Homo sapiens: one gene and its partner. The protein of the gene in region 1 purifies or fractionates together with the protein of each later gene. This does not show direct contact. Each region holds a gene or a part of one and is shown on either strand. Other genes may lie near its edges.

Region 1 (7,687 bases):
TTTTTCTTTTTCTTTTTTTTTTTTTTTTGAGACGGAGTCTCGCCCTGTCGCCCTGGCTAGAGTGCAATGGCGCAATCTTGGCTCACTGCAACCTCCACCTCCCGGGTTCAAGCAATTCTCCTGCCTCAGCCTCCCGAGTAGCTGGGATTACAGGCACCCGCCACCACGCCCAGGTAATTTTTGTATTTTTAGTAGAGGGGGAGGGTTTCACTATGTTGGCCAGGCTGGTCTGACCTCAGGTGATACACCCGCCTCGGCCTCCCAAAGTGCTGGGATGACAGGCGTGAGCCACCGCGCCCGACCCCTCCCACCTTTCTTGATCTTCTTCTCCTGGATCTTCTCCGTGCACATCTTATAGGCTTCAGACTGCTGGTACGCCCGCAGCTCCTTCATGTACTGCTGCTTCTCTCTCTCGGCCTCATCCAGGTACCGCTGGGGGGCAGCACCAGAAGGCTTGAAGCAGGGGAAGCCTCCAACGCCAGGATCCAGTCTTTATCACTCTGCTTTCACAGCACCCTCCCCTCTCCTGAACCTTCTATAGCTCCCTATTCCCTCCAGGCAGACAGAACCGGCTCCTCAGCCTGTTGCTCAGGGACCTCCGAGCTCCCACCTCACTTCCCATGCCCCGGACTCTTCCCCACCTCCAGCCCTGACAAACCACTCCCGGACGCCAGAGTCATGGGCAGGAACCCAACCTCCAGCGTATGCGGATGCCTGGACTCCCTCCCGCACCCGTTTCTCTCTTTGAAATCTCACTTACAGGGATGCAAAGCAGTGATGGCTTTTGTTACATTTCCGTGATGTTTTTGCAATTTTTAAACTAACAGGATATGAAAATCGGGTTTCGCAAAAAATCCAGGCCCCATCCTGACTTCTTAGACATATCTTTGTTGGTCATCCAGTTTTCAATCTGTCTTGCCTCTTGCTAGCCGCGCCCCCAAAAGCTGGTCATGGGCTGGCCACGGTGGCTAACGCCTTTAATATCAATACTTTGGGAGGCTGAGGTGGGCGGATCATTTGAGGTCAAGAGTTCGAGACCAGCCTGGCCAACATGGCGAAACCCCATTTCTACTAAAAATACAAAAATTAGCAGGGCATGGTAGCACGCGCCTGTAATCCCAGCTACCTGAGAGGCTGAGACAGGAGAATTGCTTGAAGCCGGGAGGCGGAGGTTGCAGTGAGCTGAGATCACGCCACTGCACTCCAGCCTGGGCAACAGAGCAAGACTCCATCTCACAAAAAAAAAAAAAAAAAAAGTTGGTTATGGGTGGGCATTTCTCCAGGAAGAAGGAAAAACCCTGCACGTGGAATCCTTTGGGGGTCGGGGCTACTGGGGGGTAGTCCGTGGACCCCGCCAGCCCTGCTCGGCGCCCCGCCCCGCCCACCTGCTTTTCCGTTGGCTGCAGCTTGCTCCACTCGGCGCCCAGCATCTTGGTGATCTCGGGAAAGGGCAGATCCGGGTGGCGCGTGCGGATCTGCTCGCGCCGCTCGTTCAGGAAGCGCACGTAGCCCGTGACCGGTGCCTTGGGCCCATTCGGCAGAATCTTCTTCCGCTTCTTGCCCTTGGGCCAGCCGCGTTTCTTCACCGGCTGCAGAACCGGGCTGCGTCGTTGGGAGGGGGGCCTGGCGTACTGGGGCAGGGCTCAGAGGGGCATGGGCGGGGCCTAACGCGTATGGGCGGGGATGGGGGCGGGGCCTAGCTGGGAGGAAGAACCCGGAAAAGATGGAGGTAGGGCCCGGTCAGCAGTCGGGACACGGTGGGTTAGAGGGATCCCTGGCCAGGGGTGAGGGGATCTGAGGAACTATGGGCCGAGGTTTGAGTACAGGGTTGGCGTTGACTTCGGTTGTGGGCGTGGCCTCTGCTTGGTGGGCGTGGTTTTCTGCTGGAGAACGGGCCCACAGGACCAAGGGGAGGGTGCCGCCCCCAAGGAGTGGAAGTGGGCGGGACCTTAGAGTGGGCAGAGCTGGCATTGTGCGGTGGGCGGGGCCTGGACTTAGAGTGGCAGAGGACCTGTCAGGGGCGTGGCAGCTGGCACGGGGCGGGGTCTCAGCTTCCAGAGGAAAATGGGCTGTGGGCGGAGCCACAAGCAATTCAAATCCAGCCTGGGGCGGGGCTTCGAGGCTGGGGCGGGAGCCCGGGGCCTCCCCCAGCTCAGCGCAGGGACTCTCACCTCCTCCTCGTGGGACCCCTTCTCGCCCGCGCGTGGACCCTCGCCGCGCTCTTGCTTGACAGTCACCACGAAGCCCCCATGCTGGCCCGGAGCCTTGCCGCCCGCCGGCCTGGAGCCAAGGATACCGCGGTCAGCCCCGTCCCAAGAATCTCCCCTCCCCCAAAAGCCCACCCCAGGGCGTTTTGACCCCCGACGGCGGGGCTGCAGCGAGAGTGCATGAGCCCGAGGAGGCAGGGTCTGATGGGGTCAGTATCCGGGGAAGGTGGGACAAGCGGGGCTCCTGGGAGGGACTGGAGGCCGAGGTGGGGGGTGCAGAATTGGGTGGAGGGAGAAGCCCCCTGACCCAGGTGGGGGAGTCAAGACTCCGGCGGGAGGGACTGGGTCAGGGGTTCAGGAGCTAGGGCTGCAGCCGGGAAAGTAGCGAGGGCGTGGGGAGGGGATCAGTGCACTCACGCGGCGGCCGCGCCGGGCTGCTTGGGGCCGTGGGACATGGCCGCTCCGGGCCGGACCTGGAACACGGACGCGGGCGGAGGTGAGTAGCGCCCGGGCTGCCCGATGGCAGACCGCGAACTGGGGTACCCCGCGATGGAGAGCCCCGGGATGCCGGGCCCGGAGCGCTGGGGGGGCCGGATCCAGGGGCAGGGAAGTCCTCGAGGGCGGGCGCCCCAAGAATCCTTTGTTGGGCGATTGCCCCCCCCGGGAGGCCTGGGCCGGTTTCCCCCGGGCCAGGAAAGACCCCGGCCCGGCCCTGGGACCCCTGCACCCCCGCCCCCTCTCAGGGCCCGGAGTTCCGCGGCTGTTTTCACCTCCAAAGAAACTTTCCCGGACCTCCCGACTGCGCGACGCTCCAACCAACCGCCCGCAGCCCGCCCCCGTCGGCCGCCCCGCCCCTCCCCGCCCCCGGCATGCTAATGAAGGCCTCGGCGAACGGTCCCATTGGGTGAGACCTTCCCCCCGGGCGAGCCCATGCAGATACCGATCGGCGCGCCGGCCGGCGATTGGTTGGGGAGGTTGCTGAGTCGCGTGGGAGGTTGGTAAGGAAGGCTGCGGGCGGTGCGTCAAGTTCGGCTGCGCTCGGCCGCGCTCGGGACCAATCGGGAGCGAGTGGCGGACTTGCCGGGCGGAGCCTCTTAAAGGGCCAGTAGGAGAGGCGCGGACTCCTCCTCCCTCTCTGAAGGCAAGACTCCCAGCCGCTGCCGGATGGGGCGACCGGCGGATCCGGGTCGGGCCCCGCCCCGGTTGCCATGGGGACGGAGGTGGGTTGCTAGGGTTAAGGTCCTGCGAGGCAGTCCCCAGCCCTAGGCAAGGTGGGACCTGTTCTTAACATCCTGCAAAACCTAGCGGAGAAGTTTCCTATGTATTTACTCAGTTTAGAGCCCCCGACGTCCGGATCCGAGGGCTTCTGGCCATAGGGGCTGCTCTCCCTCTGGGGTCTCGGCTTTCCCCCCTGTGCAACGGGGACATCACACGATATCCAGGACAGAGAGACTGGGATGCTGGGAAGCTGAGAACTGGGTGTGGGTCAGGCAGGGGGTGGGGTTGGGAGCTGGGCTGGAAGTGTTTGGGGAAAGATGGTGGTGAAGGGAGATGGCAAGGACTTCGTGAGGATGGGTCAGGAGGCTCCGCTCTGGTGGATCAGGGACCTCCCAGCAGCAGTCTAGGCTTCTGGCCCAAGTTGGGGCTGCTCACCTCCTCTTTTGTTTTTGAGACGGAGTCTCACCCTGTCGTCCAGGGTGGAGTGCAGTGGCTGGATCTCGGCTCACTGCAACCTCTGCCTCCCGGGTTCAAGCAATTCTCTGCCTCACCCTCCCGAGTAGCTGGGATTACACGCGCCTGCCACCACGCCCGGCTAATTTTTGTATTTTTAGTAGAGACAGGGTTTCACCATCTTGGCCAGGCTGGTCTTGAACTCCTGACCTCGTGATCCACCCGCCTCGGCCTCCCAAAGTGGTGGGATTACAGACGTGAGCCCCCACGCCCGGCCCACTTCCTCTTCCTCAAGTCCGCTTAAATGTCACTTGCTCAGCCAGGCCTTCTCTGATTTTTTTTTTGCCTCCATAAGTCGGCTTCTCCCTGTGGCCTGCCTGTTTGGTTCACAGCATTGCCCATGGTGGATGCTCAATACACATTCATTGAATCCTTCAGATGTCTAGGAGGCAGATGCAGCTGCTTTGGAAAACAGACTGGCATTTCCTCAAAGGGTTAAATAAATGTGGAATCACCATGCAATTCAGCAGTTCACTCCTAGGAATATACTCCAGACAACTGAAAACAGGTGTTCAAACAAAAGCGTGTACACAAGCGTCGGTAGCAGCGTGATTCATAATAGCCAAAAAGTGAAAACAACTCAAACGTCTGCTAATGATGCATGGATCGATGACGGGATATATCCTTACAACAGAATATTATCCGCCATGGGCCGGGCGCAGTGGCTCACGCCTGTAATCCCAGCACTTTGGGAGGCAGGCGGATCACTTGAGGTCAGGAGTTCGAGACCAGCCTGGCCAACATGGTGAAACTCCAGTTCTATTAAAAATACAAAAACTAGCCAGGCGTGGTGGTGCACGCCTGTAATCCCAGCTACATGGGAGGCTGAGGCAGGAGGATCCCATGAACTGGGAGGCAGAGGTTGCAGTGAGCCAAGATTGTGCCACTGCACTCCAGCCTGGGCAACAGAGCAAGACTACGTCTCAAAAAAAAAAAAAAAGAATATTATCAGCCATAAAAAAAAGGAGCGAGTCTCTGACACAAGTCACAGCATGGATGTACCTAGAAGACATCACACTCAGTGAGAGACGCCAGACACAAAGGTCACACAGTGTGTGATCAGAATGTTCAGGAAAGGCCCATCCACAGAGACAGGAGGGGGACGTGTGGGTGCCAGTGGGTGGGGAATGACCACTGAGAGGGATGCGGTTTTCATTTGGGTGATGAAAGTATTTTACAATTTGATTTCAGTGATGGCTGCGTGACTCTGGAAATATATTACAAACCATGGAATTGTATGCTCTAAATGGGTGCATTATATGTGAGTTAAGTCTCAATAAGCCCATTGTCCTAAGATGCAGCCCGGGGCTGAGGAAGAGGAGCTGGCCCTGGAATCTGGACGGTTCCACACGCCAGACCTGGCTCTGTTGCTTAATCAGCTCTCTGACCTCCCAGGCCTCCCCTGTGTCTCTCTGCTCACTTAAAAATAGTCTAGGTGAGGCTGGGTGTGGAGCCACCCCTCCCGGCCATAGTCAATAACAATTTAATTGAACATTTATTTTATTTTGTTTATTTATTTTATTTTATTTTATTTTATTTTTTTGAGATGGAGTCTTGCTCTGCCGCCCAGGCTGGAGTGCAGTGGCACCATCTCGGCTCACTGCAACCTCTGCTTCCCGGGTTCAAACGATTCTCCTGCCTCAGCCTCCCAAGTAGCTAGGATTACAGACATCCGCCACCACGCTCGGCTAATTTTTTTTTTTTTTTTTTTTTTAGTAGAGACAGGGTTTCACCATGTTGGCTAGGCTGGTCTTGAACTCCTGACCTCAGGTGGCCGCCCGTCTCGGCCTCCCAAGGTGCTAGATTGCAGGGGTGGGCCACTGCGCCCGGCCTTTTTGTTTGTTTTTTGTCATTTATTACTATGATTTATTTGCCAGTTTTTATAGCATGAAGCCAGGAACAGTATACCAATTTATAATCCTAGAGGTGGAAGCTCTCCATTAAGGATGACTTGCCTTATAATTCTTTGGTTTTCTAATTAATTTTTATTATGCAAATCATGTTCACATCCATTTCACTTGTACAGAATTAAGGAAGTGCAGCTCAGACCTCTTTAATTTCATTACATTTCCTATCGTCAGCTTATTGCTTTTTTTTTTTTTTTTTTTTTTTTTTTGAGACAGAGTCTCGCTCTGTCGTCCAGGCTAGTGTGCAGTGGCGCGATCTCGGCTCACTGCAAGCTTCACCTCCCGGGTTTACACCATTCTCCTGCCTCAGCCTCCCAAGTAGCTGGGACTACAGGTACACGCTGCCACGCCCGGCTAATTTTTTTGTATTTTTTAGTAGAGATGGGGTTTCACCGTGTTAGCCAGGATGGTCTCGATCTCCTGACATTGTGATCCACCCGCCTTGGCCTCCCAAAGTGCTGGGATTACAGTCGTGAGCCACTGTGCCAGGCCTTTTTTTTTTCTTTTTTTTTTTTTTGAGATAGAGTTTCATTCGCCCAGGCTGGAGTGCAGTGGCGTGATCTTTGCTCACTGCAACCTCCGCCTCCCAGGTTCAAGTGATTCTCCTGCCTCAGCCTCCTGAGTAGCCGGGATTACAGGCACGTGCCACCAAACCCAGCTAATGTTTGTATTTTTAGTAGAGACGGGGTTTTGCCATGTTGGCCAGGCAGGTCTTGAACTCCTGACCTCAGATGATCCGCCCACCTTGGCCTCCCAAAGTGCTGAGATTACAGGCGTGAGCCACTGTACCCGGCCGCATCTCTTTTTAAAATTTTTCCTAGCCACACTCACACACACACACACACACACACACACACACACGCACACCACACTGCATTGGTTTGCTAGGTAATAATTACGACAAACTGAGGGGCTTAAACAAGAGAAATTTATTGTTTCACAGTTCTGGAGGCCAGAAGTCCAAGAGGAAGGTGTGGGTAGGGCTGGGGCCTTCTGAGGGCGGGGAGAGAATCTGTCCCTGGCGTCTCCCAGTTTCTGGCATTGGCCAGCAATCCTGGGCTTTTCTTGTCTTGTAGGAGTGACACCCCGATGTCTGCCTGCATCTTCATGTGGGGTTCTCCCTATGTGCGTGTCTGCACCCAAATTTCCTCTTTTGATAAGGACAGCAGTCATACTGCGTCACGGCCCACCCTAATGATGTCATCTTAACTCATTATATCTGCAATGACCTTTTTCCAAATACGGTCACATTCTGAGGCCTTGGGGATTAGGACAGGAACCTGTGCATTCTGTGGGGACATGACTCCACCCACAGCACATGCCTACACACGTACACATGTGCGTATTCCTAATAAAGACGTGGGCTGGGCGCGGTGGCTCACGCCTGTAATGCCAGCACTGTGGGAGGCCGAGGTGGGTGGATCGCTGGAGGTCAGGAATTTGACACCAGCCTGGCCAACATGGAGAAACCCTGTCCCTACTAAAAACACAAAAATTGCCAGGCACGGTGGCTCACACCTGTAATCCCAGCACTTTGGGAGGCTGAGGTGGGAGGATCACGAGGTCCACAGTTCGAGACCAGCCTGGTCAACATGGTGAAACCCCATCTCTACTAAAAATACAAAAATTAGCCGGGCGTGGTGGCGGGCACCTGTAATCCCAGCTACTTGGGAGGCTGAGGTAGGAGAATAGCTTGAACACGGGAGGCAAAGGTTGCAGTGAGCGGAGATCCCGCCACGGCACTCCAGCCTGGGACAGAGCGAGACTCCGTCTCAAAAAAAAAAAAAAAATTTTTTTAACGTGAATATATATTTTTTATTTAGTCATTTTTGCTTACAGTTG
Region 2 (7,385 bases), on another chromosome or scaffold:
CCAGAAAAGTGGGAGGCACCAGCTCCTGCCCCTCAGCTCGGGGCTCCGAGCCCAAAGGCCCCCCAGTCCGCCTCCTTCAGAGCAGGGGAGGACAGACAGTACCTGCTCCAGGGGCTCAAGGGGAATTTGGGACTCCAGGGGTTGGAAGGGGGGAATCTCTAGCTCAGAGGTGCAGGACCCCGGTCTGCCACAGAGTGGCGCTGTGCAGACTTGGCTCTTCCTGGGGCCGGCGATGCTGAGCCCACAGGCAGGCTTGGCTTCTGCTCTGAAACCACAAGGCACTCAGATCTGCAGCCCCTGAACTTCCCCCAGAGACAGGGAAGTGACTGCTGGAGGGGAGGGCTCATCGGGGCCATCGGAGGAGGCTTCCTGCTGTGAGCGCGGTGTCCGCCCCACGCCTGGCCCCAAGCCTCAGTTTGCCCCTTGTTCCTACCCCCAGTGTGTACGTTAGGATCAGCTGGGGAGCTCTGACAACCCCCAGACCCGGGTCAGGAACCCAGAGGCTGTGGCTTAACTGGGCTTGGAAAGGCCTGGCCAGCAGCAGTTTTAAAACACCGAGTTTGGAGATGTACAAGCCCCTTTGAACTCTGACACTCCAAGATCCTAAAAACTGTCCCAAACAGCTCAGAGCCTGCGCCACAGTGGACACCTTGTTGCCTTCCTTGTTTTGAGCTCAGCCTCACTGTGCCTAGAACTAGGACTTCCCGACCTCCCTTCCCAAGGCAGGGCTGACCCTAGGTCACCGGAGGCTCCTGGCGGGCTCTCACCAGCTCTGGCCCGGCACCGCCCCCAAGGCTCCAGGAAAGAAAACTCCAAGCGTCAAAACCGTGGTTGGCTCCAGCTTCCCCAGCTTCCCCTCCTGACTTTGGTGTCTGCTGCCAGAGTGACAAAAGCCATCCTCGCACCCGGCCCGCAGGAGATCAGGAACGCTGCCGACACGGGGCTGGCTGTCTCGGAAAGTCTCTTAGGAAGCACCGAGGTCGCTGCTCTCGCAGGCCAGGGCCTCTTCCAGCGCTCCTGAATCTACCTGGGCGGGGCGACTCCCTGCACAGCCGGCGGCCGGGATGACACACTTCGCCGTCGGAGCCTGCGCCCTGGGCCCCTCACCTGTGGCGTGGCGGCTGAGTCAGGCACAGCCTGTGCCTCAGGTTCTGCCGTCCCTGCTGGTGGAGGCGGCCGTAAACACAGGGTGAGCAACACTGAAGTGCCCCAAGCTTAAGCAACACCGAGGGAGGCCAGGGAAGGCTGCTCACCTGGGTTCCCCCTTCCACCCCTGCCGGGAGGCGGGAGCACGGAATCCCAGAGGAGAGGACGAGACGGCCGACCAGGGGGCACATTTCACAACGCCCCCACCAAGACCTTCTCTCTGCCCCTTTGTCCCCCGCCGCCTGGAAATCGGCTTAGGCGGGTTCGCTTCCACCCGGAGTGCGGCTGGGCCTTTTGTTCAGGCGCCTTTTACAAAAGGAGCCCTCTTTCCATTTGGTGGCCCCGCTTTTTGTTTCCAAACCCCAACCTGTGTGGCCGCTACCCCTCAGGCCCCAGATAAGGCACCGCAGCGGGGAGCAAGGGTTTAGTGTGTTTTAAACGCACTTTGTACAAAGGCTAGTTTGTAAGAGCCAAACCGACTCAACTCCGGCTGGCATCCACCGCCCAGCTGGGAACCCGGCAGGTGCTCCCCCACCGCCAGCACGCTGCCCTCGGAACTCAGACGGGCACTGCGGCCAGGCCCCCGGCCCACCACGTGGAAAGGGCGCAGCCTCCACTCCCCCATCTAATGAGGGTGTCGCGGTGTCCCTTCCCCCCATCTGGGAACCCCCTCCCTATGGCCTGCGCCTCGAGTCTCCACCGCACATTTCTAAGTGCCCCCCTGGTCCCCCACCCGGCGCTGGGGAGGGGAGGCGGAAAGCTGGGGGTGGGCGGGCGCAGGGAGGGTGAGCTCCACTCCCGCTCCGCCTCCATGAAGGGAATTTAATTAGCCTGCTAGAGAGGCGGGCGGGCGGCCGAGGAGGTGTCTCTGGTGCTGCAATATAATTGAATCGGCTCCACTCGGTCGGGCCACTCGCCGCCCATCAGCGCGGCCGCAGGGCCCGGGAGGGCTGGGGGCGGGGAGGCGCATCCAGGCGGAGCAGGAAGGGCCGGGGAGGGAAAAAGGCCAGTGCGGGTGGGGGGCGGCGGATGTGCAATCCCTCTCCCACCTCCGAGGCTGGGGCAGCCATCTTCTGCGGGGGGGAGGGGAGGGGCAGGGAGCCGCTCCGCCGGGGGTGGGGGGAGAGAGAGGAGAGAAGCGGCCGAGCCCGGGGCGCGCCCTTCCTCGGGAAGCAGGGCGTGGGGGTCACAAACCCGGCAGGCTGCGGTCCCGCCCTCCCGACCAACTCCCCCGAGACAAGGGGTCGGGGAGGGGGAGGGGAGCAAGACAAGAACCCTAACCGGCGCGGCCCCAGTAGCGAGCACCCCCCCCCCCCACACCCCCGCTTCCTCGGCCGTCGCCAGCACCTGCCGCGGGGGCGCACAGCCACCCCCATTCGCTCCCTCCCGCGTCGCCGCAAAGTTTTCATTCCAGCTCTCCAGCGCCCGCAGCTCTCGGAGACTCCCCCCGCCACCCCCATCCCCCCACTTTACCTGCCCTCTAGCCCGCACGCACTTAAACGCACCCCCCCCATCCCCCGCTGAGCGCACTCCTGAGCCCGGAGCCCCCGAGTCCCCGCCCGCAGCCAGGCCTCCCAGGCTGCGACCCGCGGGCGGAGGAAGGGGGTGGCCTTTGGTCGCCTGCCCGCCCTCCCGGCTCTTATCGCCGCTAACACTCCGGGGAAGTTGCCCGGGAGCCGTTGGCGGCCGCCCCCGCGAAACCCGCGAACTTGCAGGAGGACAGTGCGGTGGGGGGAGGGGGGAGGACCCCGTCCCCGGCCGGGTGCGGCGCGCTCACCTTTCATGCCAGGGCCCCGCAGCTCCACCTCGGCTGATACATGCTGGAGCCACCGTCGCCCAGTGTTTGTCTAAACTGCTTATCTCACCCGGGGCTGCTCGGCGGCGGCAGCTCGGGCCCGCTGGGGAGGTGGAGCTTCCGGGGCCCCGGCCAAGAAACACCTGCTGCTGTCGCCGCCGAGGACACACCCAAACGCAACGCCGCCCACTCCCGGGCCACTGGCTCGCTCCCGGCTCCCTGACCTCAGCCAGCGGGAGGTGTCGGGTTTCAGCCGCAAACACACAGGCGCGCGCGCGCGCACCGACGGGCGCCCGGATCCACCCGCCCAGGCACACGCCCCTCCCCGGCCCGGCCGGCCAGGTGAGCCGGGGACACCAGCGGGGCCGCGGAGGTGCCACCCCCACACTCTCGGGAGCCCCTGGCTGGACTGCTCGGGGGTCCCGGGGACCTTGGTGGCTAAGACCGGCCACTTAACTCTTAAAGTAGTGCAGCACCCTCGCCACGTGAGCGGAGCCCTGTCTCGCAGCTGCGTCCCGGGAACCTAGAACAGTGCCTGACACAGAGCAGGCCCAATAATGGGCGGACGGGTAACTCCGTGTCCTGGAGGCCTTTTGGAGAACAACTTTCTGGGCGCTGGTGGCGCGTGGGGTGGGGGGAGGCGACACAAAACAGACTGTGTACCCAAGCCCCACCCCCCCCATGCCTGACCTTATTACCCCAACTAGAAAAGGCTGAATACTAAGAACTTGGCCTCAAAATTCCATAAGGCACCCCACCCCCCAGTTTTAAGTAACTTTTGGGAAGGCCACAATTGCGGGCCGCTGCGGGGGGTGTTCTTTAAAGAACCCGCGGCCCAGGGGCTGGAGAACCCACGGAGGCGCCGCTTCGCCAGGGGGATCATTAAGTAGCTGGGGTTGCGGTCAGAGGCGAGGTCGCCCGCCTCCAGAAACTGGCACGACCCATTGCGCTTCTGGCCCCAGCGCAGCGCCTCCCCATTCCTGGCACCCCCCACCCTACCTCACCCAGGCACTTGACTGGAATGACTCAGGGAGCGTCCTGAAATTCCTGGGCACCCACAGGCGGCGCGGAGAGGGACTGAAGGCCCCAGCCTTCCCACCCCCCGGCTCCGCCCACCCCGCCCCGCCCCGCCCCGCCCCCACCCCATCGCGGCGGGCGCGTCCCCAGGAAGCTCGGGGTTAAAGGGGCGGGCCTCGGGGGCAGGGGTCGGCGAGCCTCCCCTGCCGCCTTCTGGCGCCCTGGGCTGTAACCCCCCCGGGCGGCTCTGAGGCCCCGGGGTCGCTCCCTCCTCATCCTCTTCCAACACCCCTCTGATCTAGCGCGTCCCTACTTCTGAGCCCTGGGGCAAACCAGCACCCCCTGGGCGGCCGCCCCAGCGCTGCGCTGCGGTGCGGGTTTCGACTTTCAGCCCCCTCGTGCCAGCCCCAAACCTGCCCCGGGACATGCCCGCGCCAGGCTTGGCAGGCGCGCACGCTGCCGTCCCCGCGAGCCCGCCTCCCCCGCCTTCCTCCCTCCCCCTCCCCGCGCCAGCCCGGATTGCGACGGGAGCGAGCGCTGGGCGCCTGCCACCCCCCATCCATCTGTTCCCGATGACGCTGGCGGGCCTAGAGCGTTCGGGGCCCGCGCCAGCGGGGAGCAGAACCAGCCTGTGTGCCCTCCGGGGGGCAGGGTCTGGCGGGCTCCCTCAGGCCCCACGCTCCCCGCTCGACCTCCGACCGAGCGCGCGCCGGGGCCCGGAGGTGGGGGCGCACGCGGGCCGGCCCCCCGCCTTGCACAAGGCTCCGGGCAGACCACAAACGAAAAGGGAAACGGACCGGCGAGGCCGGGTCGGGCCGTTACTGGCTCCTACCTGCGGACGCTGGCCGGCCCTGGCACGGCGCGGGGGTGCTGCTTCCCCGCACGACCCGCCAGCTCACCGGCGGCGCCCCCCTTGCGGCCTTGGCCGGACGCTATAATTTACGCACCACACGGTGGCTCGGCCGCGCGGGCCCGGGTAATTTATACCCGCACTGGCCGGCGGATTCACCCGGCCCCAGGCGGCCAGGGCTGGGAGGGGGAGGGGGAGGGGGAGGGGCGCCTCCACCCCCACTGGGAGTCACGGGCGGGGGGAGGGGAGGATAGGGAGGTGTTAGGAAGGAATGGACGACGACTGGCCCCGAGCCTTAAAAACAAAATTCACCTCCGGGACTGGCCCAACCCCTTTCCCACCTGGATTACAAGCTGCGGGGGGAGGGGAACAGCATGCAAATGAACCTCTCGCACCTGGCCGGGTAGACACCTAGGCCCCACCTCCAGGTCTCTCACCCGGACACGGTGCCACCACCTACTCCCTTCTTCCTTGGAGAGGCCCTTGGGCCAGGGGTGAAGGTGGGGTTAGGTTTCTCCACCTGTTTGAGCAGGACCACGACGGCCAACCACAAAAACGTGTGGAGTGGCCACTGGGAGGTGCATCACTCGGCTTTTTAGAGCCGGCCAATCCCTCCGGCGTATACATCTAGCTCCCCTGGATTGCGAGATGGGTGGTCTGGTCCCGTTTCACAGATGAGGAAGTTGAGGCCCTGAGTTGCTCAAGATCATGTGCACACAGGTGACATGCAAGCTGCGCCCCAAACTGCTCACACCTGGAAGTCACTCCCCTTCCCAACCCAGTAGGCCTAGGGGAGCGAGGCGCTGCCGGACACCCCGGCAACCGCCGGGGGGCAGCAGCGAGCCGCTCTGTGAGTCCTGGCCGGGAAACGCTGGCGGCCACCAGGCGGGCTGGCAAGGGGGAGATGGATGACACTCACTGTCAGTGCGCCCGGCCCCCGGAAATTAGTAATCCGGAGCACGGCCTCCGAGTTTAAGGGTGGGAATTGCTCTCCTGCAGCCGGCGCGCTCCTCGCTAACGAGGTTTGTCGCTTGACTCCTAATTTCCCAGCACTGGGGCTAAGGCTGGCCTCCCTCCATTTCCCTCCAGGCCTGCTCCTCCTCCTCTCTCTTCCTAAGCAGCGCCCTACCCACAGCCCCGCGCCCCCAGATAGTGCGAGCCCTTCCTGGGCACAGCTCTCTTTCCCTGGACCTCCTTCCCACCCTCCACTCCCATTTGCCTGGAAGGAGCTAGGTAGGTGCCAGGGCCAGGCCTACGGAGGCACCTCCCAGAGCAGGACACCTGCCCTGGGGATGCTGCACGCGGTGCTCCTTACCACGGACTGTGCTTTGTGCCAAGGCAACAGGATGCTGGTGCCTGGTGCGCGTTTGCTCACACCCTGAGGCCCCTGCCAAGCTAAACTGTGCCTCCAAGAGCGGAAGGCAGGCTCCCAGCCCCTCACCTGCCTCAGGTACCTGCTTCAGTGACACCTAGGTGCAAACTCTAGCCCTACCTCCACAAGCCCTGGAACCTATTAGACCTGCACCACAAAAGAGATTTAAAATTTAAAAGCTTTCCTAAGGGCATGGTAGCTCACGCCTGTAATCCCAGCACTTTGGGGGGGCCAAGATAGGCATATTGCTTGAGATCAGGAGTTCGAGACCGGCCTGGACAACATGGCAAAACCCTGTCTCTATTAAAAACAAAAAAAAATTAGCCCTGCATGGTGGCGTGTGCCTGTAGTCCCATCTACTTGGGAAAGTGAGGTAGGAGGATCCCTTGAGCCCAGGAGGCAGAGGTCGCAGTGAGCTGAGATTGTGCCACTACACTCTAGCCTGGGCGACAGAGTGAGACCCTGTTTCAAAGGAGGAAAAAAAAAAGAAAGCTTTCCATCTCAGATGAACATGAGACACCTTAAACCTACTCCCTGAGCTCAGGAACTAAGAGGGGTGTCTGGAGACGGGAGTCCTAGGAGGATCCACCAGAAAGAAAGGGACGCCTTGAACCACAGAGGGTGGGCGGTTTTTCACTCAACAAACACACTAAACCCTGGGCTGTGTTTCACACTTGGTTTTCCAGAAACAAAACTGAAAATTCCAGTAAGCCTTCAGCAAGCACCTCAGAGAGGCCAGGGTTAGCTGGGTGTGATGGCACAAGCCTGTGGTCCCAGCTACTCGCGAGACTGAGGCAGGAGGATCATTTGGGCCCAGGAGTCTGAGGCTGAGGTATGATTGTGCCACTGCACTCCAGCTTGAGCCACAGAGCAAGACCTTGTCTTTTTTTGGTTGTTTTTAAAGGTGGGGGCGGCAAGGGACAGACAGCAGAGGGCAGATGCTGACAGAGGGGACACTTCAAGGCAGCAAGGAAATTTGGAAGGCAAGGGGGCAGGATGACAGCACAGACCACCACCACCACTGCCTGGGCATCAACCTGGGCCACGTCAGGTGCTCAGGGGTGCGGGCGCCACCCGTGACTGTCACAACCTCACTAAGTCTGAGCACACGGCCTAGCCCTGGCGGAGGATGGATCCCGGACACGTTCTTTCTGGTTCTTGCTTCTTCTAGGGCTCAGCAGGACAGCACACAGCCTAACCCAAGG

What was found. The genes of interacting proteins can lie anywhere in the genome.
Region 2: the proteins of HMG20B (region 1) and GSE1 purify together in Homo sapiens (affinity purification with mass spectrometry; 4 studies listed by BioGRID and IntAct, with this or other methods). This does not show direct contact.

What each region holds. Positions count from the first base shown.
Region 1 is NC_000019.10:3,568,285-3,575,971, reverse strand, and holds the start of HMG20B (SWI/SNF-related matrix-associated actin-dependent regulator of chromatin subfamily E member 1-related), read right to left. Parts: upstream 3,029-7,687; 5' UTR 2,978-3,028; exon of another isoform or gene 2,681-2,977; 5' UTR 2,663-2,680; coding exon 2,625-2,662; exon of another isoform or gene 2,281-2,624; coding exon 2,172-2,280; exon of another isoform or gene 2,155-2,171; intron 1,590-2,154; coding exon 1,386-1,589; intron 433-1,385; coding exon 312-432; intron 1-311. UniProt on the Homo sapiens protein: Required for correct progression through G2 phase of the cell cycle and entry into mitosis. Required for RCOR1/CoREST mediated repression of neuronal specific gene promoters.
Region 2 is NC_000016.10:85,608,937-85,616,321, reverse strand, and holds the start of GSE1 (genetic suppressor element 1), read right to left. Parts: upstream 3,001-7,385; 5' UTR 2,931-3,000; coding exon 2,924-2,930; exon of another isoform or gene 2,494-2,923; intron 792-2,493; exon of another isoform or gene 768-791; intron 749-767; exon of another isoform or gene 1-748.